4 linked regions of the Homo sapiens genome follow. The protein of the gene in region 1 purifies or fractionates together with the protein of each later gene. This does not show direct contact. Each region holds a gene or a part of one and is shown in the gene's direction. Other genes may lie near its edges.

What was found.
Region 2: the proteins of FKBP6 (region 1) and USP19 purify together in Homo sapiens (affinity purification with mass spectrometry; 4 studies listed by BioGRID and IntAct, with this or other methods). This does not show direct contact.
Region 3: the proteins of FKBP6 (region 1) and PPP1R12B purify together in Homo sapiens (affinity purification with mass spectrometry; 3 studies listed by BioGRID and IntAct, with this or other methods). This does not show direct contact.
Region 4: the proteins of FKBP6 (region 1) and PPP1R12A purify together in Homo sapiens (affinity purification with mass spectrometry; 3 studies listed by BioGRID and IntAct, with this or other methods). This does not show direct contact.

What each region holds. Positions count from the first base shown.
Region 1 is NC_000007.14:73,323,739-73,331,344, forward strand, and holds the start of FKBP6 (inactive peptidyl-prolyl cis-trans isomerase FKBP6), read left to right. Parts: upstream 1-4,422; 5' UTR 4,423-4,534; coding exon of another isoform or gene 4,535-4,576; 5' UTR 4,577-4,690; coding exon 4,691-4,747; intron 4,748-4,836; coding exon 4,837-4,954; intron 4,955-5,621; coding exon 5,622-5,711; intron 5,712-6,411; coding exon 6,412-6,614; intron 6,615-7,606. Other genes in the region: E3 ubiquitin-protein ligase TRIM50, read right to left, coding at 651-1,049. UniProt on the Homo sapiens protein: Has an essential role in spermatogenesis. It is required to repress transposable elements and prevent their mobilization, which is essential for the germline integrity.
Region 2 is NC_000003.12:49,117,640-49,125,562, reverse strand, and holds the start of USP19 (ubiquitin carboxyl-terminal hydrolase 19), read left to right. Parts: upstream 1-4,739; 5' UTR 4,740-4,807; exon of another isoform or gene 4,808-5,095; intron 5,096-6,281; 5' UTR 6,282-6,417; coding exon 6,418-6,541; intron 6,542-7,442; coding exon 7,443-7,616; intron 7,617-7,732; coding exon 7,733-7,906; intron 7,907-7,923. Other genes in the region: LAMB2 (laminin subunit beta-2 precursor), read left to right, coding at 79-310, 394-557, 638-862, 951-1,168, 1,277-1,373, 1,463-1,835, 1,932-2,116, 2,190-2,431 and 6 more. UniProt on the Homo sapiens protein: Deubiquitinating enzyme that regulates the degradation of various proteins by removing ubiquitin moieties, thereby preventing their proteasomal degradation. Stabilizes RNF123, which promotes CDKN1B degradation and contributes to cell proliferation.
Region 3 is NC_000001.11:202,351,697-202,358,880, forward strand, and holds part of PPP1R12B (protein phosphatase 1 regulatory subunit 12B), read left to right. Parts: intron 1-7,184. UniProt on the Homo sapiens protein: Regulates myosin phosphatase activity. Augments Ca(2+) sensitivity of the contractile apparatus.
Region 4 is NC_000012.12:79,791,983-79,799,166, reverse strand, and holds part of PPP1R12A (protein phosphatase 1 regulatory subunit 12A), read left to right. Parts: intron 1-582; coding exon 583-673; intron 674-1,771; coding exon 1,772-1,972; intron 1,973-2,216; coding exon 2,217-2,385; intron 2,386-3,407; coding exon 3,408-3,529; intron 3,530-5,238; coding exon 5,239-5,304; intron 5,305-7,184. UniProt on the Homo sapiens protein: Key regulator of protein phosphatase 1C (PPP1C). Mediates binding to myosin. As part of the PPP1C complex, involved in dephosphorylation of PLK1. Capable of inhibiting HIF1AN-dependent suppression of HIF1A activity.

The sequences.
Region 1 (7,606 bases):
TGTCCAGACACAAACAAGGGGCCTAGGGCAGTGGTGCATGCCTATAATTCCAGCACTTTGGGAGGCCCAGGCAGGAGGATCATTGGAGGCCAAGGAGTTCAACACCAGCCTGGGCAACATAACAAGACCCCATTTCTACAAAATATGAAAAATGAGCTGGGCATGGTGGTGTGCACCTGTAGCCCCAGCTGCTCGGGAGGCTGAGGTGGGAGGATTGCTTCAGCCTAGGAGTTGGAGGCTGCAGTGAGCCATGATCACACCACTGCACTCCAGCCTGGGCAACAGAGTGAGACGCTGTCTCCAAAAAGAAAGAAAAAAAAGAAAGGAGAGAGGGAGAGGGAGAGGAAGAGGGAAGAGGGAAGAGGGAAGGAGAAGGAAGAAAAGAAAAAGGAACAAACCAGAACTGCAAATAAAAAAACAGGAAGGGGTGAGCACGTGACACCAGGGAGCTCCCATCCTGTTCGTGTGGCTTCAATCCCCGGCACCTGGGTTGAGCTGCAGCTCAAACGCTAAGGAATGAATGCGCCAGGGCACAGCTGCAGGGAAATCGAGGATAGCTGGATCCTTTTGGTGCCAGGTGATGGCACCAGAGAGCACAGGATCTGGTCCCCGCGGGCCTCTCCAGCCGCCCCTGCACCCTCACTCCCCACCTTCATGCGGCTGTAGACGGTGGAGACGGGCGTGACCGGGTGGTGTTGGTGGGAGCCCAGCAGACCGCAGAGGCCACAGATGAGCTCCTGGTCCTTCTCGCAGAAAAGGCTGAGCGGGTTCCGGTGGTGCACGCAGACCTTGGGCTCCGGGTCCCCAGGGAGCCTCAGGGCTTCGATCACCCTGGCCAGGGAGACGTTGGGCAGGGAGCTGCTGCCGTCCACCGCCTGCCGGCACACGGGGCAGCGCAGCTCGGCATCCAGGTGGCAGGACAGGGAAACCAGGCAGCCCTTGCAGTAAGAGTGGCCACACTGCAGCATCAGGGGCTCCTTGAAGACCTCCAGGCAGATGGGACACTGAAGCCGGTCCTCCAGCTCTGGCAGGCTCACCTGCCAAGCCATCCACACTCACTGCCCGGGCTGAAACACAGGCATCCGACCTCAGTCCTGTCCCCTCCCCTCCCCCTGTCCAGCACTCATCCACCACCCTCAACCCTAAGGAGCACCAGAATTTTAGAGGAAACACTTTGAGTCCTGGATCCCAGTCCTAACCCACATGACCTTGGGCCCCAGTTTCCGCAGCTGTAAAACAAAAGACTGCAGTGAAAAAAACTGGTCCCTTGAAGATATGTGTGTGTGTGTGTGTGTGTGTGTGTGTGTGTGTGTGTCTACATTTTTTACTCAAATTTGGAGACAAGCATGAAAGGGGCCATCTGCAGGGTCATTTGCAGTGACACTAATAATGCAAGGTCCAGCCCCAGCATGCATCCGGACCTAGAACTGAACAGCAAAACCTAGGCAAGCTCCCCACCTTCTAGATCAGTTCCCAAACTTTCGGGAAACTGTTGAAAGCATAGGTGTAATAGAGATTCTAGAGGCCCACCTTCAAAGGATCTTCTTCAGGGGGTCTCCAGTGAGACCCAGAACTCTACACTTATAGGTGACACTCCCAGGTAATTCTAGAGAGCCTGGAACCTACAAGGCCTCTACCCTGATCTCCCACCTGCTCCCCTATGAAAGCTTGTCAATGAGACAGAAGCAGCACCAGCAGCCCCCGGGGGAGCCCGACATTGGAATACCTGGCTTCTCACAATCCGCTGGGCCTCCCACTACAGCCTCAAGCCAGCATCACTGGCTTTCCTTCTTCCCAGCAGGGAACAGCAGGCACAGAGTCAGAAGTGGGAAATGCAGCTGGACGCCTGCACCACTGCCTGGTCTCTGCCCCTTCTCTCCTCCCCTTTCCCAGCAACACCCCTGTGTCCCCAAGGTCACCAGAATCAGGTGGAAACTGGGTTACATCACGGGACTGGGGAGGCAGCCTTTGTTGGGCCTGCTCTGATAACATTCAGGTGCTGGCCTTGGCCACTGTGGAGGAGGGGCAGAAACAGAGGGACTGGGTACACCGTCCACACCTCATGACCCCAACAGGAGCAGATAGGTGCTGGGAAACAGTTCTTTCTGAATCTCAAACTCTTGCTCTTACTCTCCTTTTTTTGGGCGGGGGGGCTGGGGGGTGGGGAAAGACAGCTTGTTGCTCTGTTGCCCAGGCTGGAGTGCAGTGGCGTGGTCATAGCTCACTGTAGCCTCCAACTCCTAGGCTCAAGCCATCCTCCTACCTCAGCTGCCTGAGTAGCTGGGACTACAGGTGCATGCCACCATGCCAAGCTAATATTTAAAAAATTTTTTTAGATACCGGGTCTTGCTTTGTTGCCCAGGCTGGTCTTCAACTTCTGGGCTCAAGCAATCCTCCCACCTTGGCCTCCCAAAGTGCTGGGATTACAGGCGTGAGCCTTACTGCACCCAGCCTTCCCTCTCTCTCTCTTTTTTTCTAATACAAACTGGCAGATGATGATTCAATCTCTCTATTTTTTTTCATTTTATTGTTTTATTTATTTTAGTAGAGACAGGGGTCTCGCTTTGTTGCCTGGGCTGGTTTTGAACTCCCGGCCTCAAGCAATCCTCCTACCTCAGCCTCCCAAAGTGCTGGGATTATAGGTGTGAGCCACCAAGCCTGGCCTCTTTTTTTTTTTTTTTTAAGATATTCAAAGGTATCCTTATTTACTTAGATTTTTTAAATCAAGGTATAACATATACAAGTGTGCAAATCTTAACCACACAGCTTGATAAACACTTGATGTATATACACCCACTCTCAAGAACAAGATGTAGAGTGATTCCAGAAAGCTCCCTCCTGCCTCCTCCCAGTCATAACTCCTAACAAGGACAGCCACTGTCCTTATTACCATGTTGTCATGTGGACTGTTTTTGAATTTCACATAAACAGCATCATATAGAATGTACTCTTTTGTGTCTGGTTACTTTCACTCAATAATATTGAATTGTGAGTTTTTTTTTTAATGTGAAGTCTTTCAACGTTTAGAAATTCAATGACACTCTGTTATACAGGTTTTGTTTGTTTTCTGAGACAGAGTTTTGCTCTTGTTACCCAGGCTGGAGTGCAGTGGCGCAATCTGGCTCATTGCAACCTCCGCCTCCCGGGTTCAAGTGATTCTCCTGCCTCAGCCTCCCAAGTAGCTGGGGTTACAGGCGCCTGCCACCATGCCCGGCTAATTCTTTGTAATTTTAGTAGAGATGGGGTTTCATCATGTGGGGCAGGCTGGTCTCAAACTCCTGACCTGGAGCGATCCACCGGCTTTGGCCTCCCAAAGTGCTGGGATTACAGGTGTGAGCCACCGCGCCTGTCCTGTTATACAGTTAATGAATATTATGGTCATAATATACTGCTGTGGTTTGAATGTATCCTCCTAATTTCATGTGTTGGAAACTTAACCCCCAATGGGGCAGTATTGAAAGTTGGCTGTAGCTTACGCCTATAATCCCAGCACTTTGGGAGGCCAAGACTGGAGGATCACTTGAAGCCAGGAGTTCAAGACCAGCCTAGCAACAAAGCTACAAACCATCTTTCCAGCAAATTAAAAACTAAAAAATAAATTAGCTGGGCCTGGTGGTGCAGTTCTGTAATCCCAGCTACTCGGGAGGCTGAGGCAAGAGGATCTCTTGAGCCCAGGGAGTGGCGGCTGCAGTGAGCTGAGATCCATCACTGAACTCCAGCCTGGGCTCAGAACGAGCCTCTGTCAATCAATCAATCAATCAATCAATCAGTGTCTTGTCTGGGCCTAAATTCTCTAGAACACAATGGAAGAGAGAAAGTGAAAGAAGGTGGAAGTAACCCACAGCTGGGAGCCCTGAACCCTGCTGGTGGCAGGTGGCTCTCGTGTCCTCACCAGGTTGCCCTGCAATCACATGCTGCATCCTTTTTCCTGAACCTGCCCCACGTGCCCCACCACGCAGCCACTCCGAGGGCTCCTTCAAGGGCGGCAGCCCTGTCACTCACGTGTTCCAAAAGTGCTTCCCCTGTGCCCTGATGGCCTCGCCATGTGTCTCATCATGCCCCACGCGCTCCCACTGTGCGCCCCACCTCGCACCCGTGCCCCATCATGCTCTGCGTGCTCGTTAGGTGCCCCATCATTTCCCGCTCGCTCTCGTTACGTACCCAGCCTCCGGCCCCTGTAAGTGCCCCATCGTGCTCTCTGTCGCTCCAGTTAGATGCCCCATCCTGCCCCGCGAGCTCCAATTACGTGCCCCACCTAACCCCCCACGTCCGTGCCTCATCATGACCCGCACGCTATGGTTACATGCCCCGCCTCGCGCTACCGCGCGTGCCCCATCATGCTCTGCGCGCTCCCATTACGTGCCGCCACCTCGCGCCCCTGCACGTACCCAACGTGCCCTGCGTGGTCCCGTTACGTGTCCCATCATGTTTCGTGCGCTCCCATTACGGATCATACCTCGCACCTCACCGCGTGGCCTCTGTAGTTCCAGAGCTCGCGAGGGCCAGGGCCGTTGGCGGCGGTTGGAACGAAACGATGAGTGCCTCCTCGTGGCCCCAGAATGGAATGCCGCCGTCGGTAGGGGTCTGCCGGGCATAAAGGGGCCTTCGGAACCCCACCAGAGTCACAGCCAGGGAGGGCAGCGGGGCGCACCAGGCCGAAGGCTCACGCCACAGGGAGGGCAGCTAGGACATGGGGGGAAGCGCGTTAAACCAGGGAGTCCTGGAAGGGGACGACGCCCCCGGCCAGGTGAGGGCCCAGACGTTTCGGGGGCGTAGACGCTGAGGGGTGGCCGGGTGGGTCTGCGGCTCTGAGGCCTGGCTTTCATTCTCCATCAGTCCCTGTACGAGCGGTTAAGTCAGAGGATGCTGGACATCTCGGGGGACCGGGGCGTGCTGAAGGACGTCATCCGAGAAGGAGCTGGAGACCTAGTGGCGCCTGATGCTTCGGTGCTAGGTACGCCCTGGGGCGGTTTGTCCTCAGGATCCATGTCATCGCACTCTGTTGGGAAGAGAGAGGCCTCATTTTCAAAAAGCACTTAATGGGGTTGGAAATGCTTTGTTTGAAGTGGATTTTTGTTTTTTGTTTTTGAAACGGGGTCTTGCTCAGTTGCCCAGGCTGGAGTGCAGTGGTGCGATCATAGCTCACTGCAGCCTCCACCTCCTGGGCTCGTGATTCTCCTGCCTCAGCCTCCCAAATAAGGGATTTACAGGCGCGATCCACCATGCCCGGCTAATTTTTAATATTTTTGTAGATATGGGGGACTCTATGTTGCCCAGGCTGGTCTCAGACTCCTGGACCCAAGTGAGCCTCCCACCTCAGCCTCCCCAGTAGCTGGGATTACAAGCATGAGCCGCTGCTTCCGGCCTGAATTAGTTTTTTTAAGACGAAAGCTAGGGACTCCTATGTCCCCTTTGTGTGATGCTTCCGCAAAGCTCTTGAACCTCTGAGCCAAAGGGCCGGCACCCAAAATGCAGAGAGAAGATTTATTCCTGTACCTCGGGGTGTCGGGCAGCTTAAGCTCATCTGTTCACATTGTTTCTGTGTGATCATGAGAGACTCGATATTATGGTGGCGTGGGTGTTTTTGGTCCATTTTCCTTACATTCTTTCTTCTATCCTAGTGAAATACTCGGGATACCTGGAACACATGGACAGACCCTTCGATTCTAATTACTTTAGGAAAACTCCTCGGCTAATGAAACTTGGAGAGGGTAGGTTCAGAGTGGGAGCTGGAGAAGAAGGAATTGTTTAGGGGCTAGATGAGGCACGATGCCTCAGGCTGGGAAGACTGCTCAGAGCGCAGGTTCTTTGAGTTGGCTTTGCTGAGGCTGGGTTTTGGTAACACAGCCATGTTCTCTCCCCTTGAGACCTAGGCATTTGGGAGATGGCTTAACGGGCAAGGTATAATCTTTGCACTCTGACTTAACTAACCACTGGGAATGTTTCTTTGTTCATTTATTAAGTAAAACTCAATCGAATACTTACTTCCCACAATACATGGTGAAAAGAGAGGATGTACTCAGAAGATTAGAACATCTCCACCCTTAAGGACCTCACAATGTAGTGGAGGAGACTGACCTGCACTCAGCTCACTTGGTAGAATCGGATGAGTGCCTGGGAGGTGAAAGCAGTGTTGTGGGTGTGCTTAATGAAGGCATGATTAATTCTAGCTGGGAGGTTCAGGGAAGGCTTCCTGGAAGTGGGGGCATTTGAACTGAGCCTGGAAGTTTGAATAAAATTTATATCAGTAGAAGCTGGGCACAGGCTCAGGAGGAAGACATTGCAGGAAGAGGGAACTGTGTGAGGGAGACATGGAGGCCAGAGTACTGCTGACTTAGAGGGGGAAGAAACTGATAGCACTGAGCAGGATACTGAGCAAGCTTCACCCACCTTCTTTGTCCATTCTTACAGATATTACACTGTGGGGCATGGAGCTGGGCCTTCTGAGCATGCGGAGAGGAGAGCTGGCCAGGTTTCTGTTCAAACCGAACTACGCCTATGGAACGCTGGGCTGCCCTCCCTTGATCCCCCCAAACACCACTGTCCTGTTTGAGATTGAGCTGCTTGACTTCCTGGACTGTGCTGAGTCAGACAAGTTTTGTGCTCTCTCAGCTGTAAGTTCCAGAGCACAGATGTCAGCACTTTATAGAGAGACGAATGGGTTGGTGTTATTGGTAATTCTTCTAGATGGCCTGCCCTGAGGCTGATCGTCCTCTCCAGGGTACCCCCGCGGCTCCTGTGCGGTGGCGGCGGAGTTCCTCTGCTTCCTAGTCTGTGTTTGTCTTAGTAATGGCTCTCATGTGTAGATAAATGTGCTGGGCAAGGTAAGGCTGTGAGTTTAAGGATTAGTGGTTTGAACTGATTTTTCAGTCATCCTTTGCCTAGTTCTCCCTGTGAGACAGTGAACACTTGCTTTTCATCGTTTGGTTTCCAGCAAGGCAGGCATTGGTAGCTCATAACTAGGGTGACTGAATAATTGATTGTCCAGCCCAGCACAGGTGAGAGTAAAAGGGGCTGTTCACTGGAGGGGTTACCCATGACATCGGGTTTAAACTGAGACAGTCCCAGGCAAACTGGGATGTATGGCCACTGTCCTCACCACTTAAGTCTTGCCTCCTCTTTGTAGCCTTTCACTTAACCCTGTCCCGTAGATGCAGGGCTTCTGACCCCGTCAGCAGTCACAGGCACTGTCTTTATCATGCTGTCTCACACTGACTCCATCTGTGGCCTTAGAGGTCCATGCCAGGGTTTATATCTTCACATGGAGTCTCCCCAGCTAAACTGTCAGCACTCCAAGTGAGGGAGCTCACCCTTTTTCATCATTCTGAGATTCGAGTTTCTTGCAAATGCCTCGTCCCACCTGTGGTGAACTCATTTAGGATCTGGGGGGTGGGGCCGGGACCAGAGAGGCTCTATGGGTGACTCTGAAGATGGCCAGGGCAGAGCATCATGACCATAAAGACTGCCAGGGCCCTGAGCAAACCAAGACCTGTTCAGTGCTTGGTGGCCAAATAGTGGTTTTGAGCACTGACTTCTGTGCTTGGCAAGTTCCGTCAGTTTTTGATTCCATGGGACACTGCTTCCTCAGAGAACATCAGGGGAAGAC
Region 2 (7,923 bases), on another chromosome or scaffold:
TCCCCTGAGACCCTCCCCCACCCACACTCCCCTCAGACCCCCTCCCCTGGCTCTGGCTCAGCTCTGCCTTGCTCCTAGCCTGCCAGTGCAGCCACGAGGGGGCACTCAGCAGTCTCTGTGAAAAGACCAGTGGGCAATGTCTCTGTCGAACTGGTGCCTTTGGGCTTCGCTGTGACCGCTGCCAGCGTGGCCAGTGGGGATTCCCTAGCTGCCGGCCATGTGTCTGCAATGGGCATGCAGATGAGTGCAACACCCACACAGGCGCTTGCCTGGGCTGCCGTGATCACACAGGGGGTGAGCACTGTGAAAGGTGAGACTGGAGCAGCTATGAGTGGGTTGGTTGGTGGGCAGGCTTCCCAGGGATGACACATTTCTTCTTCCTCCTCCCTGCAGGTGCATTGCTGGTTTCCACGGGGACCCACGGCTGCCATATGGGGGCCAGTGCCGGCCCTGTCCCTGTCCTGAAGGCCCTGGGAGCCAACGGCACTTTGCTACTTCTTGCCACCAGGATGAATATTCCCAGCAGATTGTGTGCCACTGCCGGGCAGGCTATACGGGTGAGTGGATGGGGGCAGGCGTGGGATCAGGGTGAGTTGGCTGGGCTGAGCACTCACAGCTTCCTCTTAACCGTGGGCAGGGCTGCGATGTGAAGCTTGTGCCCCTGGGCACTTTGGGGACCCATCAAGGCCAGGTGGCCGGTGCCAACTGTGTGAGTGCAGTGGGAACATTGACCCAATGGATCCTGATGCCTGTGACCCCCACACGGGGCAATGCCTGCGCTGTTTACACCACACAGAGGGTCCACACTGTGCCCACTGCAAGCCTGGCTTCCATGGGCAGGCTGCCCGACAGAGCTGTCACCGTGAGTATGAGTGTGGGAGGGCATGGCTGAATTGGGGTTCTGCTTCTTGGCCTCCTCTTGACTACTGTGCTCATCTTGGTTGGCACAGGCTGCACATGCAACCTGCTGGGCACAAATCCGCAGCAGTGCCCATCTCCTGACCAGTGCCACTGTGATCCAAGCAGTGGGCAGTGCCCATGCCTCCCCAATGTCCAGGGCCCTAGCTGTGACCGCTGTGCCCCCAACTTCTGGAACCTCACCAGTGGCCATGGTTGCCAGCCTTGTGCCTGCCACCCAAGCCGGGCCAGAGGCCCCACCTGCAACGAGGTATGGGACCCTCCTGCAGATCCCTGGTTAGATGGGGCCAGGTGTCTGTCTTATCTCCAGGGCTTAGCCTCTTATAGAGGCTCTGACCCTGCCTTGTTCCCACCCCAGTTCACAGGGCAGTGCCACTGCCGTGCCGGCTTTGGAGGGCGGACTTGTTCTGAGTGCCAAGAGCTCCACTGGGGAGACCCTGGGTTGCAGTGCCATGGTGAGGGAGCCAGCGGGGCCAGGGTAGATGGAGGACTTCCCAGAATGCCCCACAGTGACCCTAACTCTGTGCTCTGCTCTTTCTTGCAGCCTGTGATTGTGACTCTCGTGGAATAGATACACCTCAGTGTCACCGCTTCACAGGTCACTGCAGCTGCCGCCCAGGGGTGTCTGGTGTGCGCTGTGACCAGTGTGCCCGTGGCTTCTCAGGAATCTTTCCTGCCTGCCATCCCTGCCATGCATGCTTCGGGGATTGGGACCGAGTGGTGCAGGACTTGGCAGCCCGTACACAGCGCCTAGAGCAGCGGGCGCAGGAGTTGCAACAGACGGGTGTGCTGGGTGCCTTTGAGAGCAGCTTCTGGCACATGCAGGAGAAGCTGGGCATTGTGCAGGGCATCGTAGGTGCCCGCAACACCTCAGCCGCCTCCACTGCACAGCTTGTGGAGGCCACAGAGGAGCTGCGGTGCGGAAGGGCCTAAGAATACATGGTGGGATGGGGCAGAGGCCCAGTGGACCAGGGCTGAAGCCTCTCTAAACACCCCCCTCTCCATCATTGCAGGCGTGAAATTGGGGAGGCCACTGAGCACCTGACTCAGCTCGAGGCAGACCTGACAGATGTGCAAGATGAGAACTTCAATGCCAACCATGCACTAAGTGGTCTGGAGCGAGATAGGCTTGCACTTAATCTCACACTGCGGCAGCTCGACCAGCATCTTGACTTGCTCAAACATTCAAACTTCCTGGGTGAGTTGTTAGCCAACTAGGCAGGTGGACCAGGGTCAGTCTTCAGCTGACTGTCTGCCTCTGCCCAATTTAGGTGCCTATGACAGCATCCGGCATGCCCATAGCCAGTCTGCAGAGGCAGAACGTCGTGCCAATACCTCAGCCCTGGCAGTACCTAGCCCTGTGAGCAACTCGGCAAGTGCTCGGCATCGGACAGAGGCACTGATGGATGCTCAGAAGGAGGACTTCAACAGCAAACACATGGCCAACCAGCGGGCACTTGGCAAGCTCTCTGCCCATACCCACACCCTGAGCCTGACAGACATAAATGAGCTGGTGAGGTTGAAGTGTTGGGTGGGGCAGGTGGGTGTAGATGTTCCTCTCACAGGGCCCTGACTTGTTCTGTGCCTGGCAGGTGTGTGGGGCACCAGGGGATGCACCCTGTGCTACAAGCCCTTGTGGGGGTGCCGGCTGTCGAGATGAGGATGGGCAGCCGCGCTGTGGGGGCCTCAGCTGCAATGGGGCAGCGGCTACAGCAGACCTAGCACTGGGCCGGGCCCGGCACACACAGGCAGAGCTGCAGCGGGCACTGGCAGAAGGTGGTAGCATCCTCAGCAGAGTGGCTGAGACTCGTCGGCAGGCAAGCGAGGCACAGCAGCGGGCCCAGGCAGCCCTGGACAAGGCTAATGCTTCCAGGGGACAGGTGGAACAGGCCAACCAGGAACTTCAAGAACTTATCCAGAGTGTGAAGGACTTCCTCAACCGTGAGCCTCCCACGTGTCCCAGGCCATGTGGTTGTCCCCTTTGGCAACTCCCGGTGTCTGTATCTCCCTTGGTTCATACTTGAGCCTCAGGGACTACACTGGATTAGTGTTTATGATCCCTTGACTGGCTCCTGAGTTATTGCCCATATGTGGTCCCAGGTCCATGTTCTTGAGTCTGAGCCCCTTGTATAGTCCCTGTCCTTGTGATTATATCCTTATGCCTGGTAACAAACCCCTATCCCATGTACATGTCCTGAGTCCATACCCCAAAACTGTATCCTCATGCCCATGCTGGAGAATCTATGTTCTTAAGTTCTTGCTGTGTCCCTATAGAGGAGGGGGCTGATCCTGATAGCATTGAAATGGTGGCCACACGGGTGCTAGAGCTCTCCATCCCAGCTTCAGCTGAGCAGATCCAGCACCTGGCGGGTGCGATTGCAGAGCGAGTCCGGAGCCTGGCAGATGTGGATGCGATCCTGGCACGTACTGTAGGAGATGTGCGTCGTGCCGAGCAGCTACTGCAGGATGCACGGCGGGCAAGGTCTGACCCCATCCCTGGCCCCTATCCCTGACACCTGGTTTTGATACCTCCAGGTTCTGATTCCCCCTTCTCCCCAGGAGCTGGGCTGAGGATGAGAAACAGAAGGCAGAGACAGTACAGGCAGCACTGGAGGAGGCCCAGCGGGCACAGGGTATTGCCCAGGGTGCCATCCGGGGGGCAGTGGCTGACACACGGGACACAGAGCAGACCCTGTACCAGGTGAGGTCTTCCTAGGACATCAGTGGGACAAGGTTATGGGCATGAACCGTAGATCTGTGTAACCTTTGGCTCACCCATGGCAGGTACAGGAGAGGATGGCAGGTGCAGAGCGGGCACTGAGCTCTGCAGGTGAAAGGGCTCGGCAGTTGGATGCTCTCCTGGAGGCTCTGAAATTGAAACGGGCAGGAAATAGTCTGGCAGCCTCTACAGCAGAAGAAACGGCAGGCAGTGCCCAGGGTCGTGCCCAGGAGGCTGAGCAGGTGGGTTGAGGCAGAGCCAGCTGGAGAAGGTAGGGGTGGAAGATGGGCCTCCACTGAGCTACCACGCTAACCTAACCCTCTACATCTGCAGCTGCTACGCGGTCCTCTGGGTGATCAGTACCAGACGGTGAAGGCCCTAGCTGAGCGCAAGGCCCAAGGTGTGCTGGCTGCACAGGCAAGGGCAGAACAACTGCGGGATGAGGCTCGGGACCTGTTGCAAGCCGCTCAGGACAAGCTGCAGCGGCTACAGGGTAAGAAATGGGGCACCAGAGACACAAGACTGCGGGAAACCCCCCCTAAACTGACACCTGCCCTTCCTAGAATTGGAAGGCACCTATGAGGAAAATGAGCGGGCACTGGAGAGTAAGGCAGCCCAGTTGGACGGGTTGGAGGCCAGGATGCGCAGCGTGCTTCAAGCCATCAACTTGCAGGTGCAGATCTACAACACCTGCCAGTGACCCCTGCCCAAGGCCTACCCCAGTTCCTAGCACTGCCCCACATGCATGTCTGCCTATGCACTGAAGAGCTCTTGGCCCGGCAGGGCCCCCAATAAACCAGTGTGAACCCCCACTGTGTTGTCTGGACTCTGATTTGGGGCGGGCGGGGGAGTCTCCAGGGGAACCTCGAGGTTGCCCCCAGCAGAACCCATGCACCGCTAAGCCACCCGAGCACCGCCTCCTTCCGCTCGGGCCCGCCCCGGAGCTGCGGGTCGCTCCGAGCCCATTCCCGCCGGAAGTGCGTCACCAGCTTGGCGCTCCGCCTCCCTCGGCCTTAGCTAGAAGTCGAAACAAAACAAGCCGCTAAGGCGGTGGCGGCGGCGCCGGGACGGGGGAGGGGCGCGCCGGAACCGGAACCGACCTGCGCCGGAACCGGAACGGAGAGCGGGTTGCCAGGGCCCGAAGAGGGCTGGCTGCGGCGGTCTCGCTCGGTGAGTGGAGCAGGCTGCAACTCGCTGGCTTGGCCGCAGCGGGGAGGCCGCAACGCGCGGCCGCGGCGGCCTGTTCAAGGTCACGGGCCGTGCCAGTCCCTACCCCTAGTGCCCCGCAGCGTGCCAGCCCACTGATGCCGGCAGGGCCGTTACGCTATGCCTGTGGCCAGCCTCCCACCTGGGAGAGGACTGGCGGCCAGCGAGGGCAACTTCGTGGGAGAGGTGGTGGCGGGCTCGGGGTTCAGAGGCTGAAGCTGGGTCGCAGCTCGACCGGGGCGCTGATCTGTGGTCAGTAACCCCGCGCTGCCATTTCAGGCCGGCTCGGGTCTCTAAACAGCCCCTTACCCGCCTCGACGTCCCTGGGGCATGGGGGAGGGACGCGACCTTCGGCTGGGGCCTGGGTGCAAGAAGGAGGCGCCGGTGGCAGGTGTCATTAAAGATCCAGCCCACCAGTACCACATCTGACCTGTAGAAGGGTATCCTGCCATCCCTCCTTCCTCCTTTACACACTTAGGGGAACACAGACTAGTCATTATCTGTCCTGCTACTGGTTCAGGCCAGGCTTGAGGCTGCCAGGAGTCCTGGATCTGTGGTCCTCCCCAGCCTCATCTCAGTATCTAGTTTCAAGACCTTCATTTTGGAGGAGGAAACAGTCCAGAATCCACTGGTGGGTCTGTGGGAAACTGTAGTGGTCCTTGTGGCTCAGAGCTCATGAGTGAAGGCATCTGGGAAGGAAGGTGATAATTTCTGTTCCAGTCTCAAACTGGATGCCCATCCTGCCTTAGTACTGGAGCAGGGTTGCTGCTGAAGAGGTAGCGTGACATCTAGATACACTTTTCAGTCCCTTTCTGCTTGGGACAGCAGCTGGGGAGAGGACTTTCTCTTGAAATGAAGAAGGACCAAGCAGTACATAGGAGCAGGTTCTTGCCAAGGGTGGGAGCTGGCAGGAGGCAGGTGGAGTGCCTTAGCCCCAGGACTTTTTCTGGGCAATGGTAGAACCTGGGTTGAGCCTGTTTACAGCCACAGAGCCTGGTTCTCCTGCGGCTTGTCTCCTGTCCTGCCTTCCTCCTCCACCTTCTATTTCTCCAGTGGTGACTAAGCAGCCAGTGAGAGTGAAGGAAAAGTGAGCACCCTGCTCGGAGTGCCAGCCCTGTGGGCTGGAGCCGTGGCTCCTCTCCAGATTGGTGGAGTAGCCTGGTCCCAGGCCATGACTTCCTTGACCTGGTGCCCCCTCAGTGAGGCTTTCACCTGTGTGGGACTGTTATGGTGGGTATCTATGAGGCTTGGCCAGAAGTGGTTGCTGCTACTTGCATTATTTATTACCTCTTCAGAATATCCTGAGAGTGTCCAGGGGTACTTAAGAGATGAGAAGATACAGCTCTGTAGCATTAGTGTCCTGTGTTGCTGAGCCCTGGGTGTAGCTAAAGAGCAAGTTGTTGGGTCTTGGCAGTGATCACTGGCTTCTTTCCATTAGGCTGTCCGTTCCTTGCTGGAGAATTTGGCCACAAAGAGTTGCCAAGATAGCTGGGCCAGGAAGAAAGCGCCGCAGCCCTGACCCAGACGCTGTTGCCGACCCCGGGGCACTCTGGCTGTCGACCAAGCGGCTCAAGATGTCTGGCGGGGCCAGTGCCACAGGCCCAAGGAGAGGGCCCCCAGGACTGGAGGACACCACTAGTAAGAAGAAGCAGAAGGATCGAGCAAACCAGGAGAGCAAGGATGGAGATCCTAGGAAAGGTGGGAGTGGCATTCCCAGAGTAATTGTGGCCTTCTCTGCCTCCCATCTTATTGGTATACAGATTGGGGTTTGGGAGATGACTTTCTTGTTCTTCTCTCTGTCCTGGTTTGATGATGAGAGAAGAAGGACCCATGATAACCTCAGTAGAGCCTCAGCTTTGAAGCCTGAGTACTTGGCTAAGATCCAGAAGATGGTGCTGTTGGGGGGCTTGCCTTCTTTCCTTTTTAAACTTTTTTCTTTTTTTTGAACCTGTTCTTTTTTTCCTTTTTTTTTTGAGATGGAGTCTCATTCTGTAGCCCAGGCTGGAGTGCAGTGGTGCAATATTGGCTCACTGCAACGTCCACCTCCTGGTTCAGGTGATTGTCCTGCCTCAGCCTCCCAAGTAGCTGGGATTACAGGTGCATGCCACCACGCAAGGCTAATTTTTTTTTTTTTTTTGAGACAATGTCTCACTCTGTCATCCAGGCTAGAGTGTAGTGGCGTCTTGGCTCACTGCGGGCTCTGCCTCCCGGGTTCAAGTGATTCTGCTGCCTCAGCCTCCCAAGTAGCCTCAGCCTCCCAAGTAGCTGGGATTACAGGTATGCACCACCACACTCAGCTAATTTTTGTATTTTTAGTAGAGACGGGGTTTCACCATGTTGGCCAGACTGGTCACAAACTCCTGACCTCAGGTGATCCACCCACCTCGGCCTCTCAAAGTGCTGGGATTGCAGGCGTGAACCACCGTGCCTGTCCCTTTTTTTTTTTTTTTTTTAAAGGCAGGGTCTCACTCTTGCACAGATTGGAGTGCAGTGCAGGTGTGATCGTAGCTTACTGCATCCTCAAAGTCCTGGGCTCAAGCAGTCCTCCTACCTCAGCCTCCTCACCATGCTTGACTAATTTTTCTTATTTTTTTTTTAGAGACAGGGTCTCGATATGTTGCCCAGGCTGGTCTTGAACCTCTGGCCTCAGGTGATCCTTCTGCCTCAGCCTCCCATGCAGCTGGGATCACAGGCTCACGCCACCGTACCCGGCTGTTCTTTCCTTCATCGTCAGGGTCAGCATCCACTCCTCAAGAGGAGCAGACCAAAGAGGGTCAGTAACGAATGGGCTTTTTGTTGCTAGGGAAGGGGAGGGGGCACTTGCAATTTGGCTCCCATCTGAAGCAGTTTCATTAGGCTGGGTCTCTGTTACCTGCTTATCACCATCAGGAGCTTGTGAAGACCCTCATGATCTCTTGGCTACTCCCACTCCAGAGTTGTTGCTCGATTGGAGGCAGAGTGCAGAAGAGGTGATTGTCAAGCTTCGTGTGGGAGTAGGTCCCCTGCAGCTGGAGGATGTAGATGCTGCTTTCACAGATACAGACTGTGTGGTGCGGTTTGCAGGTGTGTCCATCTGCCCT
Region 3 (7,184 bases), on another chromosome or scaffold:
TATACAAGCACGATATAAATTATCTGGATAATTGCTTCTTTTCTCTCTTTTGGCCATGGCCACTTGACCAACTGTGGATTATTGTCTTGGCATGTTAGAAGCCCCCAGATAATACTGGGGGACAATTTTTCTCCTCCTACAACGTCACAGTAGATGATTTGCACTGCAGCTTGTGGTGCCTTGATGCTTCTTTTGGACTTAGAGACCTTCTTTCTTGGCAGCCTTTGCTGAGACCACGAGGTGCTTGAGTCAAAGATAACAAGCTCCAGGGGGCCTATTAATAATACTTGAGTTAGACTGGGATAAGAAGTATCTCAAAGGTTAGACCAACTCTGATGAAAGCCTTGGAAACTGATGCAGACTAAATTTCAGTGACTAAATTAAGATTTGGTGTGTATGCATGTGTTGTCCTAGAGTCCTTAACAAGGTATTAATCTGATTATAGAACCCTTGAAAGCACTTGTTTGCTCACAAAGGAATTTCTGTTTCATTTGCGTATACACATTGTAAGGCCAGGAATATTTGTTAATAATTCTATGTGGAATAGTACTTTAAATTTTTTCTTTTATTTATTTATTAAGTTTGACTGTTAGCACCTATCTTGATATCCTTAGCATTATAATCTTAGGTACTCTAGGCCTAGATACATGATATCTACCAAATTATTGCTGTGGGAAGAGGCAAGTGCCTACTTTCAGAAAAGAGATTTTTCTAGGATTTATTAAAATGAATGCTTACTTACTTCAGCATGTATTATGTTGACTCTTAAATCTGTGCTGAGTGTGGTGAGGGATGCTGGATTTCAGTCACCATAGGTCTTGTCTCTTAGCACGGTCTGATCAGTCTTCATCTGGAGGGCTACCAAGGAGATTAGAATAATTCCATACTTGACTCAGAAATTCACACTGGCGGCCGGGGGTGGTGGCTCACGCTTGTAATCCCACCACTTTGGGAGGCTGAGGCAGGTGGATCACGAGGTCAGGAGTTCGAGACCAGCCTGGTCAACATTGCAAAATCCCGTCTCTACTAAAAATACAAAAATTAGCCTGGTGTGGTGGTGCACACCTGTAGTCCCAGTTACTCGGGGAGGCTGAGGCAGGAGAATCGCTTGAACCCAGGAGGTGGAGGTTACAGTGAGCTGAGATCACACCACTGCACTCCAGCCTGGGTAAAAGAGTGAGACTCCGTTTCAAAAAAAAAAGAAAAAAGAAATTCAGACTGTCTTTGTAATGTGCAGGGTCCAAATTTGGACCCTCAAGGTCACACCAGACTGGAATTCAGTTTGTAGTTGAATAAGCCTTTGTCATTCTAGAGTTGCCTCAGTCTGACGCTGTAGACTTAGGGAGGCTAAAATCACGTATTTCTCAGGAAGAGAGATGGAGATAGGAACAAGTGAGGGGAGGAGGATAGGCTGAGCAATTTATATTCAGACAGAGACAGAAGATGAGTAAGATGAATGTGTGTTCAGTTCAATATAAAATAGTATATTTTGTGTGCTAACTCATATGGTAAAATAAAACTTGTGCTTTTAACCTTTTCTCTTTTATTCTACATTTATTACTCATTCCTCTCCTGGTTCCACCTGCGAAGTTACTTTTGCCTTACCCTGAATATTGATGAATTCTGCTTAGTGTCAGGACCCATGGCAACATAGGATTCAGAAAAATCCTGTTTGCTCCTTTATTATTGTGCATCTAGAATAGTCATCTATCCTGAGCCATTTTAGTAGCTTACCTCTTCAAATTGCTTAATATGTTGCATCAGACTATGTTGGACCTCAAAGCCATATTGGGAAATTCAGCTTTTTGTCTGTGTGGTTTTTTTTTTTGAAAGTATAAATAAAAATGACTTTCATTTGTTCCGCAGAATTTCTTCCCTATTCTTCTTCTTTGTGTGTGTGTGTGTGTGTGTGTGTGTGTGTGTGTGTGTGTGTGACAGGGTCTTGCCCTGTTACCCAGACTGGAGTGTGGTGGTGTGACCATGGATCACTGCAGCTGCAACCTCTCAGGCTCAAGTGATCCTCCCCACCTCAGCCTCCTTAGTAACTGGGACTACAGGCACACCCCATCATACCCAGCTAATTTTTAAAATTTTTTGTAGACAAGGGGGTCTCACTATGTTGCCAGGGCTGATCTTGAACTCCTGGGCTAAAACAATCCTCCCCCCTCGGCCTCCCAAAGTGCTCGGATTACAAGTAGGAGCCACTATGCCTGGCCTCTCCCCAATTCTTCAACTCCTGCTGAATAACTGTATATCACCATTTGGGCTTTTAGAATCTTCTACTCTGTGAGTATTTTGAAATAGGCAACCTGTCAATATATATGGATTAAGCACAATTCTGCCAAAGGTAAGGAGTTGGACCAGTCTTGTTGTTAACATAAAACTAAGTAGTTTATTTTTTTCTTTTAAAATATTTTAAAACTAAGATATACTTTATATACAATAAAATTCACTCTTTGTAGTGTAGCATCGTATGAGTTTTGACAAATGCGTACAGTTGTGGAACCACCACTGTAATCAAGATGTAGAACGTTACCCTCAAGATTTTTTGTGCTCCTTGGTAGACAGCTCCTCCCACCCTCAGCCCATGACAGTCATTCATCAGTTATTTTGTCCCAATAATCACAATAGATGGAGGCTGAGGCAGGAGGATCACTTGAGCTCAGGAGTTTGAGACCAGCGTGGGCAACATAGCAAAACCTTGTCTTTACAAAAAAATAAAATTAGCCAGGCATGTTGGTGCATGTCTGTAGTTGCAGCTACTTGGGAGGCTGAGGCGGGAGGATAGCTTGAGTCCAGGAACTGGAGTTGCAGTGAGCCATGATCGTGCCACTGCATTCCAGCCTGGATGACAGAGTGACACCCTGTGTCTATAAACAAACAAGAGCCACCATGCCTGGCCTAGAGTAAAGTTTTTGATATTTGAATAATATGCCATTAATTACATGTGTCCCATTCTTTTTTTTTTTTGAGACAGAGTCTCGCTCTGTCAGCCAGGCTGGAGTGCAGTGCACGATCTCGACTCACTGCAACCTCTGCGTCCCGGGCTCAAGCAATTCTCCTGCCGTAGCCTCCTGAGTAGCTGGGATTACAGGGGGGTGACACCACGCCTGGCTAATTGTTTTTTTTGTTGTTGTTTTTTTTTTTGAGACGGAGTCTTGCTCCGTCGCCCAGGCTGGAGTGCAGTGGTGTGATCTCAGCTCACTGCAAGCTCTGCCTCCCGGGTTCACGCCATTCTCCTGCCTCAGCCTCCCGAGTAGCTGGGACCGCAGGTGCCTGCCACCATGCGCAGCTAATTTTTTTTGTATTTTTAGTAGAGACGGGGTTTTGGGCGGGTGGATCACGAGGTCAGGAGATCGAGACCATCCTAGCTAATTTTTGTATTTTTAGTAGAGACGGGGTTTCACCATGTTGGCCAGGCTGGTCTTGAACTCTTGACCTCAGGTAATCCACCCGCCTCAGCCTCCCAAAGTGCTGGGATTATAGGCGTGAGCCACCATGCCTGGCCGTGTTCCACTATATTTTTCTCTTTAGAGGTTTTCTTAGATTCTTAATTAACAACTAATATTGAATGTCTAAATGGTAGATTGTAAGTCTGTACTAGAGTATATATGTGGTATAATTTCTGCCCTCAAGGAACTAACAGTCAGGTTTGGAAACAGATAAATAAAAAAAAGATTCCTTTTAGAGTTCCAAATTCTATGATACCCTGGAAAGGATGTATTCCTAAGTGGAAGGACAAACGAAGGCAGTCCAGGATGGTAGAGCAGCATGGGCGAATAAATAGGAATGGGTGTGGTGTGTAGGCAGAGGATGCTAGGAAATCCTAATGGATGTGTTTGAAGGGTTAGAGATGAGAGAGAGTCAGGGTGACATCCTAGAGGGCTTTGAACATCAAACATCAGGCCAAGGTGGCTTGATGGACTCCTTAGTAGAGAATTTTTGTGGGTTTGAGCAGGGTCGTTACCCAACCAAAGCAGTATTTTAGGATTCTGAAGCAGCACTTGGATTTCTGAATGAATGGAGAGACAGAGTTGAGAGAACCAGCTGAGTGAATGGAGATGAGAAAAAAGTGTAGTACAATTCTAGCTTGTGAGTCTGAAAGAATTGTGTTATTCAGGTAGAAATAGTATTCAGTCAACGATTAGACTGAGGTACTCTGAAGACGTACAAATAGAAATCTCCTATAGGTGTTTAGCATGGTGGCCCATATCTGTAATCCCAGCACTTTGGGAGGCCAAGGCGGGAGGATTGCTGGAGACCAGGAGTTTGAGACCAGCCTGAGCAATGTGGTGAGACCCTATCTCTCCAACCCCCTCCCCACCCAAAAAAAAATTAGCCAGGTATGGTGGTGCAAACATGTGGTCCCAGTTACATAGGAGGCTGAGGTGGAAGGATCACTTGAGCCCAGGAGGTTGAAGCTGCAGTGAGCTGTGTTCACACCACTGCACTCCAGCCTGGGTGACAGAGCAGAGCAAGACTGTGTCTCAAATAAATAAGTAAGTAAGTAAGTAAATATCCTGTAGGTATCTATGTGACTCAAGGCTAGTCACTTTCCTATCTATGCTCCAGTTTTCTCATATTTGAGACAAGAGACTTGATTTTAGCATAAAGGTGAGAGTTGAAGTAATGAGTGTGAAAGAGGAAAGGGAGAAAACATACAGAGAAGAGCAGAAAACACAAGCAGCTGGTAGGCAGAGAATGCAGAAATTCAAGTTAGAGCTGTTGGAAGATGTGGTAGGCTGACTAATGGTGCCCCAAAAATGTCTAAGTCCTAATCCCCAGAACATGTAAATATGTTACCTTACAGGGTAAAAGAGACTTTGGGGATATGATTAATTTAAGGATCTTGAGATAAGGAGATTAGCCTGGATTATCCAGGTGAGCCCAATATAATCACAAGCATCCATATAAGACAGGCAAGAGAGCAGAATCAGAATAGGAGATGTGATGAAGGAAGCAAGAGATTGCAGGGATTCCAGGAAGGTTCTGTGAGCCAAGGAATGCAGGTGGACCCTAGAAGCTGAAAAAGGCAAGGAAGTGGATTCTTCTCTCAGAGCCTCCACATAAGGAACCAGCCCTGCCAGCAATTTGACAACTCAGCCCAATGAGACTGATTTCAGACTTTTTTTTTTTTTTTTTGAGACTGAATTTTGCTCTTGACCCCTAGGCTGGAGTGCAGTGGCACAATCTTGGCTCACTACAACCTCCGCTGCCCGGGATCAAGCGATTCTCCTGCCTCAGCCTCCTTATTAGCTGGGATTACAGGCGCCCACCACCACAACCAGCTAATTTTTGTATTTTTAGTAGAGACGTGGTTTTGCCTTGTTGGCCAGGCTGGTCTCAAACTCCTGACTTCAGGTGATCCACCCGCCTTGGCCTCCCAAGGATTACAGGTGTGAGCCACTGGGGATTACAGTTGTGAGCCACTGCATCTGGCCATGATTCAGACTTCTGACCTCCAGAATGCTATGATAATAAATTTGTGTTGTTTTAAGCAACTAAGTTTATGGTAATTTGTTATAGCAGCAATAGGAAACTAATACAGAGAAGAACCGACAAACAGTGATATTGAGGTATTTCAAGGAATGGATGGTAAATAATGTAAAAGGAAATTGAGGAGAAGGCCTGTAAAAAGACTGTTGGATTTGGTCATTTAAACTTTGAAAGAGCACTTTCAGTAGAGATATTTTTGAAGACTTTTGTGGAGGTTATATGAAGTTTTTTTTTGCATTAAGGATAACTTGTCTTTCTGTTGACTTTTGGGAGAAAAAATATAGATTTTCCATCAATATAATTGTAATTTAAATGAGGGCCCAAAATATGTGGCAAGACACTTTAAAAGCTGAATTCTGGCTAGTTCAGGTGGTTTCATTATTCATCAGTTAAGAATATTTTAGGATATTAAACCTGATAATAGGGGCAAGAAAGTTATGTCCCTATTACTGATGGCTGCTTATCTAGTTTATTTTACTTCTCAGTCTAGTTTGGCCCATTTCCCACTCATTAGCACTTCCACTGGAAGGCAGCCTTGGGGGAACAGTGATAGGGAGGTTAGTACCAATAAACAGTTTTTTCTGCCATTCTCTTACATTTATTTCTTGAGTGTCTACTGTGTATCTGATTCTGTGCTGCTTGTTACTTTTACTTAGCAGTAGATACAATTTAGAAACTAACTTGAATTTTGGGATTGGTCTCCAGAATAGTTGGTTACTATTATAACTTATAATAGGAAATTGGCTACATAACCGATTTCTGTTCTAGCATTCTGGCTCTTGAGGAGTGTCAGGGGAGTACTATATTTATCAGTATTTGAGACTATTTTATGCTTATGGAGGAGAATTACATATATATCTTCTCTAAGATGGTGAAATATGGAGGTTTGGGATGTCTAATAAATCTTTAATGGTTCAACATAGTAATAATAAATCCAGATTAAGACCTTGGCCCAGAATGTCATATAGGACAAGGAATTGAAGCCTCATTTGGATTGCTAATTGAGTGCTTGCCCAATTTGTTGATGTTGTTTTTGTCTGTGAATATGTTGGGGTTTTTCCTGCTTTTGAAGTGTCATTTAAAAAAATTGTTTCTTCTGATCTTAGATTGTAACCAGTTTGAGTAAAATTTGGGGGCTTAAAGTTTTATCAGGCATGCAGAGTTTATGTTTGTTTCATGAGGCAATTCAATTGAAAAACTGAAGCTTTGCCCAGGCGCGGTGGCTCACGCCTGTAATCCCAGCACTTTGGGAGGCCAAGGCAGGCAGATCACGAGGTCAGGAGATTGAGACCATCCTGGCTAACACGGTGAAACCCTGTCTCTACTAAATATACAAAAAATTAGCCGGGCGTGGTCGCACGCGCCTGTTGTCCCAGCTACTCGGGAGACTGAGGCAGGAGAATCACTTGAACCCGGGAGGTGGAGGTTGCAGTGAGCCAAGGTGGCACCACTGCACTCCAGCCTGGGTGACAGAGCGAGACTCCGTCTCAAAAAAAAAAAAAAAAACTGAAACTTGAGTTTTCAGTATTGGAAATTGACTTGCATGTGGTTTTTAATGAAATATTCTACTTCATTATAGTTATGGAATAGGTTTATACAAAAATTTAGAGATGATTTTATATTTAGTATACTTAAATGTTATGACACAGTGATAATCTGTTAGAATATTAATCTAATGCAAATTTGGG
Region 4 (7,184 bases), on another chromosome or scaffold:
AAAAAAAAACAAAACAAACAAAAAAAAGATTTAGAAAGGAATTTGATACCTGTCTTCCAATATTTGAAAATACTGTAGGTAGAGAATAATTTAAAACCCCTTTTAGTAGGTCATTAAGTAAGATGCTTAGATTATCACTTTTGGGGGATGTTTTCAGGGCTGGAGAAGAGGACCTTCCTCAGTTAAAAACAGACAAAAAATTTACTCCTTATCCATTCTGCTTAATTGGGCTAAATGAAATCCTTCTATTTTTTTCAATAGAGCTAAAATTTTTAATCTTCAGTTCTCTAAATCCTTTTTAAAAATGTGGTTCCATCTTAAAATTAAATTACATTATTTTAAAAAATGTAGTTAGGAAGTTAAAATGTGATGTTAAAATATAATTATTAAAATATAACTAGTTCCAATCTAAAAAGAAATTATAAGATTGCATTATTGAATTTCAAAGACCATTTTCTGAAGACTTTTCCTTAAAACTTACTAAGATATTAAACCTGTATGTTTTATTCATATGCATTGATAGATATTTACATTCACAGGTATTGTATTTACAACTAACGATTTTTCAATTTACTACTGTAGATCATACCTCACTCCTGTTAGGGATGAAGAGTCTGAATCCCAAAGAAAAGCAAGATCTAGACAAGCAAGACAATCTAGAAGATCAACACAGGTATAGTTAATGTAATTAATATATAAAACTTACATAAGTAGCATATAAAATATATATACACACACTGACATAAAACAAGTTACCTTTCTCTTTTTCACTTTGTTGTGAAAATATTGATGTCAGTATATAGTGTGAGTAAATCCTTAAAAGGTAAAGGTTGCTGTAGTTATTCTAGTAATTCTAGTGTGAATAAATCCTTAAAAGGTAAAGGTTGCTCATAGCCTTTTGTATGGTTACACTGCTACTATTGTATTTCATCTAATTAGCATATGCCTTTGTGTCTTTTTGAGTATTTTTTAAATCCTTATTCCTAATACAGTGTCTGGCCCAGAGTATTTGGTTAGAATAAATTAATCATATGATGTCTAATAAGTATTTAAAAGTTCTATGAATATTTGGAAATCGGGGGCAGAGAATAGGCTCGTATATTAGGTATAAACAACTAATATGCAAGTATGAAGAAAATGTCATTCAGGCTGGCGATCTCCTTACCTCCGTTTTGCCATTCTGATTATGCTGTATATGATGTATACTTTTGTGTCTTTCTGCTTTCCCACAGTTAAGAAGCTCCACAGTCCAGATTCAGCTGTCTATCCTTACCATTACTTAGCTTTCAAGCTGAACTATTTGCTAGGGCCTTAATATACTTTTTCTGTCTTTATACTTTTCACTTCTTGAAATCTAACCTGTTCTTCAAGGTCAAATCTTGAAAAATTTATCGAAATCTCTTTTAAGCCTTAACAATCATCATGCATGTGTATATAGATACATATACACACATATATATACACACACACAGACATATATATAAACATAAATATTTATAATATACAAACAGTACAGATACTGGCTATTCTTCTCTAGTTTGAACTTGTGGGGAACATTTATATGCATAGAGTATCCAGTACCTATCGTTGTGCTTGCTAATGGTGATTCTTCATAGAATGAATGTAACTTGCTGTTTCCATTTGCAAACCAATTTTAAACATGCATATTTGACTTTTAATGCATTTGTATGTAATATATCTATTTCTAAAATATTCCTTGAAACAAGCTTTAATGCATCTCATAATTATATTGATCTTTTTGTGTGTGCAGGGAGTGACATTAACTGATCTTCAAGAAGCTGAGAAAACAATAGGAAGAAGTCGTTCTACCCGAACCAGAGAACAAGAAAATGAAGAAAAAGAAAAAGAGGAAAAAGAGAAACAAGATAAAGAGAAACAAGAAGAAAAGAAGGAGTCAGAAACATCTAGAGAAGATGAATATAAACAAAAGTACTCCAGAACGTATGATGAGGTAACAGTATATCAAAAGCACATTTAAGTCAAATGGTATGAATAGTCCTTATGATCCTTAACATACAAGAGATTTATATACCAACAAACCATATGCAAAATACTGTAAAGGATTTTAGCTGGAAATTTGAATTACTTTGGCGTGATTAGTATACTACTTTTTCTTTGAAATGAATTTTTAAGTATTTTTATGTTTTTAATTGTGTTTAATGTTTCAAATGGGTTTTGATCTTAATGTTTCACAGACTTACCAGCGTTATAGGCCAGTATCAACTTCAAGTTCAACCACTCCATCCTCTTCACTTTCTACTATGAGCAGTTCACTGTATGCTTCAAGTCAACTAAACAGGCCAAATAGTCTTGTAGGCATAACTTCTGCTTACTCCAGAGGAATAACAAAAGAAAATGAAAGAGGTAAGAATACCAAATTTTGAAAACACTTTGCTTTCTTCATATAATCCTTTGGATTAGGGTTTCCTAAATAATAATTCAACAGTAAAGGAACAGCATCCTAACTTGTGATTCATCGAACCTAAACAGAAAGAATATGAAGGTTGAGAATGAGAAAAGTAGAAAACAGAAATAGAATATGGCCTGCTGTTGATACTAATATTTTTATAACCTAATACTTCACAAAAATCTTCATGTCCACCTACAACGAAAAGTTAATATCGAACTGGTGGGTGACTATTTCTAGAAGCAGTTTACTAGTGTAGTACTTCTCAGATGCTTTAAGCTATTTCTTGCCTACTGTGTAGATCATATCATTTAAATGTTTTTTTGTGAAATTGTTGTAAACTAAAATTACTAACTACATGTAATGCTCTCACTAAAACACATTTTTATGCTTATTTCTTAAAAAATACATTTCTTTCTCAACTATATATTGGCATATTGATACTCATTACCATTTCCTATTATTTTATATAAACTTTCTATTTAAATTCTGAGTAATTCCTACTTTAAATCAGATATAAGTACTAAATATAGGCATTTCATATTTTAAAGCCTAAATCTTACAGTATTAGTCATGATAATATCAGTAGTAATGTAGAATAAACAGCAGAAAATAAAGTTTTTTCCCAATTTCCAGCTATATATTTTCTCATGTTGATCATTGAGATGTTTCAGTTCTTTAAACTTCTATGTGTGAGGCCTGCATTGTGTTTGTAAAAATGTTGAACCAACATTTAAAATTAGAGATACTCACTTCAAACTTCAGATTTTTGCCATTTCTTGAAAAGTTGGCTGACCTGGCAACACTGGATCTGAATTCTCACATACCAACAATTGGCTGGAGCTAAGTAGTAGCAGCTGCCTACCTTCCATCCCCCTAGATAGTCCCCTGGCCCATTTTACCCATTGTTTTTACAATTACCTTGCAAAATATTGTCAAGATATATTGCTATATTGTGGTTCATTGCAATCCTTAACAGAGGGAGAAAAAAGAGAAGAGGAGAAAGAAGGAGAAGATAAATCACAACCTAAATCAATCAGAGAACGACGACGACCAAGAGAGAAAAGAAGATCTACAGGAGTTTCATTTTGGACACAAGATGTGAGAACCTATTAAAATACATTATTTGATAGTATTCTTGATAGTATTCTTAATGTGTCCAAAAATACATACTAATAATTTCTTATATGCCTTAGATTTCATATTCCTTAAATCATCACTGTGTTTTCTGAGTTGTTAAATAAGAAAAATTATTTTTAAGGATAGTTAACTACTTAGATTGTTGGTACTACTTAAAAGGAGTGGTTCTGACCTAATTATGGAATAGAAATAATAATGTCTGAAGCTCAGAGTGCATGTATTGATTATTTTATAATAGGTAAACTGCTTCTTGTAAAAACATCTTTTAAGAATTTCTAAGGAGTCTATTTAATTTCATTTTCATAAATATCATTATAAGATCTACATTACAGATTACTTCCATCTCAAAGCATGCTAAATAGACACAGTGCTTTGCTTATCAAATTACAACAGTCTTGTAAAAATTAGTGTTTTCCTGGTCCTTGATTGTAGGCCTGACATTGCTATTCATTGATTTTGTTTCCATTTTCTAAAAAATAAACCTTTTATTGAAGTATGGCATGTTTAGAAACATAATTCATACATGTATAGCTTAATGGATTAGCACAATAGGAGCATATCTATGTAATCACCACTCAGAATGATGAATAAAAACAGCAGTGTAGATTGCCCCCATGTTCTCCCTCTCAATCCCTATCATCCTCATTTTCAAAGTCAGCTAGTATCCTGATTTCTAACACCGTAGTTAACTATGCCTGTTTTTGAAGAGCATATGACTAGAACTATAAATTTTATAACTGTTATGTTTATAAGATATATCTATGCTATTTTATGTAGCAGTACATTTACTTCTATTGTTATAAAAATATTTTTTAAAGAAAATTTCTAACTATTCTTTCACTGAAAGAACATGGAATCATCTGTCTTCCTGTTAAACTGACCCATCTCTCACTATATGTTCCTCTTTATCTCTAATATTATATCTGACCTTAAATTCTGCTTTTTTGAAAAGCTTCCTTTTGATTATCTTTGTATAATATATCTTTTCTGTTATTTTCAATTTATTTGTGTTTTTTTTAATAAACAACATATTTAGGTCAACTTTTTTCTGAACTTTTTTTTAATTGCAGTGTTTCAGTCCATTTTAATTTTACTTAATTACTAATTACTTAATTACATGAAACAAATAACATTGTCATTTGCAGTTTAAAATATATAAAGAGCTAAGGCATATGAAAACAATAGCACAAAAATATGGGAAAGTATTAAATGGAGTTGAAGAGTTTTAGTATCTTCGCATTGTCCATGCTGTGGACAAAATATATATTCAACTTGATGAATCAAGAGTGCATATGTCTATTTAAAAAAGTTTAAAAAGAGAGGGAAAATCATACATAAATGACAAAGAAGGGAAGAACAGATGGGGAAATCGGAAAATAGTTTTCTATTTTTCTTTTGATTTTTAATATAGAAAAGTTAAACATATACTTTATAGAAGTAACATAATAGTATAATGAGCCCTACCCCCAGTATTCATTTTTTCAGCTAAATTCCCACTCCATCTCCCAACTCCCATATTATTTAGAAGAAAATCCTAGACATCTCATTCTATCTACAAATGTCTCAATGTATATTCTGAGAGAGAAGGACTCCCAAAAATAATTTTAAAAAATAAATTTTGAAATTATTACTAAAATTTCCTAAAATATAAATTGGCAATCTGTTTTTAGAGTGATGAAAATGAACAAGAACAACAATCAGACACAGAAGAGGGATCCAATAAGAAAGAAACTCAGGTAAATACCATTACTTTTTGTATTGAGAAGTATTCATATTTTTTAATAATTACTTTTAAATTGCGTTTTATTATGTTTATTCATGCAAAGCAGTTATTGCATACTCTACCTACATGCTGGGTATGCAATATCAGTGTTTGCCTGGGGATCAGGATTAAAAGGACTGGGAAGGGTCACAAAATAATGTTTTGGAGGTGATGAAAATGTTCTGAGTCTTGATCCTAGCAGTGGTTTTATGGATATACAGAACTGCCAAAACTCACCAAATTGTACACTCTAAGTGGATGTAATTTAATGTATGTCATTTAACCTTCGGAGTTAAAAGAAAAAGCAAAAAAAGAAATAGTACCCTTGGCCAAAGGAAAATATCTAAAGGATAATCAGAAGTAGTGGAAATCCAGAAGTAGTAGGCTCAGATTTTATTTCTGTAGATTTTATTTCAAAGTTATGTTCTGGAGAATATAGGCATCTTTTAACTTTCTTTTACATATATTTAGAAATTTAGAGTCTCCAACAGATTTTTATGTTGAGAATCTAAAAGACATTTTTTTCCTCTCAGTACTGATGAAGGACCTAAAGCAAGTTTGAATGACAAGGCTGCACAGCCAGCAAGGGTTGAAAGTTCCCCCGACCCCCTTCCTGATTGTTTGGCTGTGTAGAAAGCTAAAAAATATTCAAAATATTTCTGTTCATATGAGGATAGAGCTGAACAACACGAGTCTAAACCTGGCACTGTCTAGCATGAAATAGCATTCTGGTCATATTAATATTATTTTCTTCATTTTGAGTTGAAGTTCCTTAATAGAGCTATTACATTTCTTTTTAGTCAGCAAGGATCTACAGTAATGTGAACAAAAGTTGGTTACCTGTGCTAGGTGACGGTGAACATTATTTTAGGGCCAAGTTTGCCTATTTTGACCCCACAATTTTATTTTATCTTTAGGTGGCCAGACAATGAGGAGTGAATTGGTTCTGAGGTTAAATTATTTGCAGGCCTAAAGCTTTAACTGTTACCTAAATTTTTTGGTTATCAGTTATCAGAACTCCCCAATTTACCTATGTCCCTTCTTTATTAAACAAGAGGGGAGGAAATTAGTAAACCATCCCCATCTGACACCTCTCATTGCCTTATCACGCAGACTCCAGCCCCCACCAGGCTGGAGTGGAAGGGAGATTGTCTGGCTTTTAAAGTTGTAATTTTGAAGCATATTGATGTATACTGTATTTTAAGTTTTACTGTTAAAATCATATGAGATACGTTAAGATGAAGAGGAACATTGTTTCTAAGACGAAAAGTTTTTTTATTTTCAATTTAAGTAGTTTTTGTTTACTTTAGATTGTTTAGAGTTCTTTTAAAGTAATGAATAACATATAAATAAATATAACAAATATAAATAACAATATGAAACCTAAGTCAAACTGGATTAAACAAAGAAAATGTATTGTACTCCAGTTATATTCTGCAGTCCTTTGTGTCAGCTTCATCCTCAGGCTGATGTACCTCATAGGGATAGGATTATAGTTGGCTTAGGATAGACAGGGCCTATCACTGAACTGTTGCAGCCATTTTGCTACCAACATGGGCCATGTGTCATCTCACCTAAACCTAGTAACTGCTATACCATGAGAAAAAGGAAGAATGGATGTAGATAAATAAATAAGGTGCAATGTATGTGCATAGATCAATATTTTCTATATTCACATAGATATTATGTGTCCAGAAAAGGTTGGTTAGATAACAGTGGTTATCTAGAGAATGGAGGGATGAGGAATTACACAGGAACTTTGTATACCATTATGTGAACTTTACAATACCATAGTCAGAAAGATATTTCTGAATATCTTTCTATATATTTTAATCTTTTTTATCTTTAAAAAGA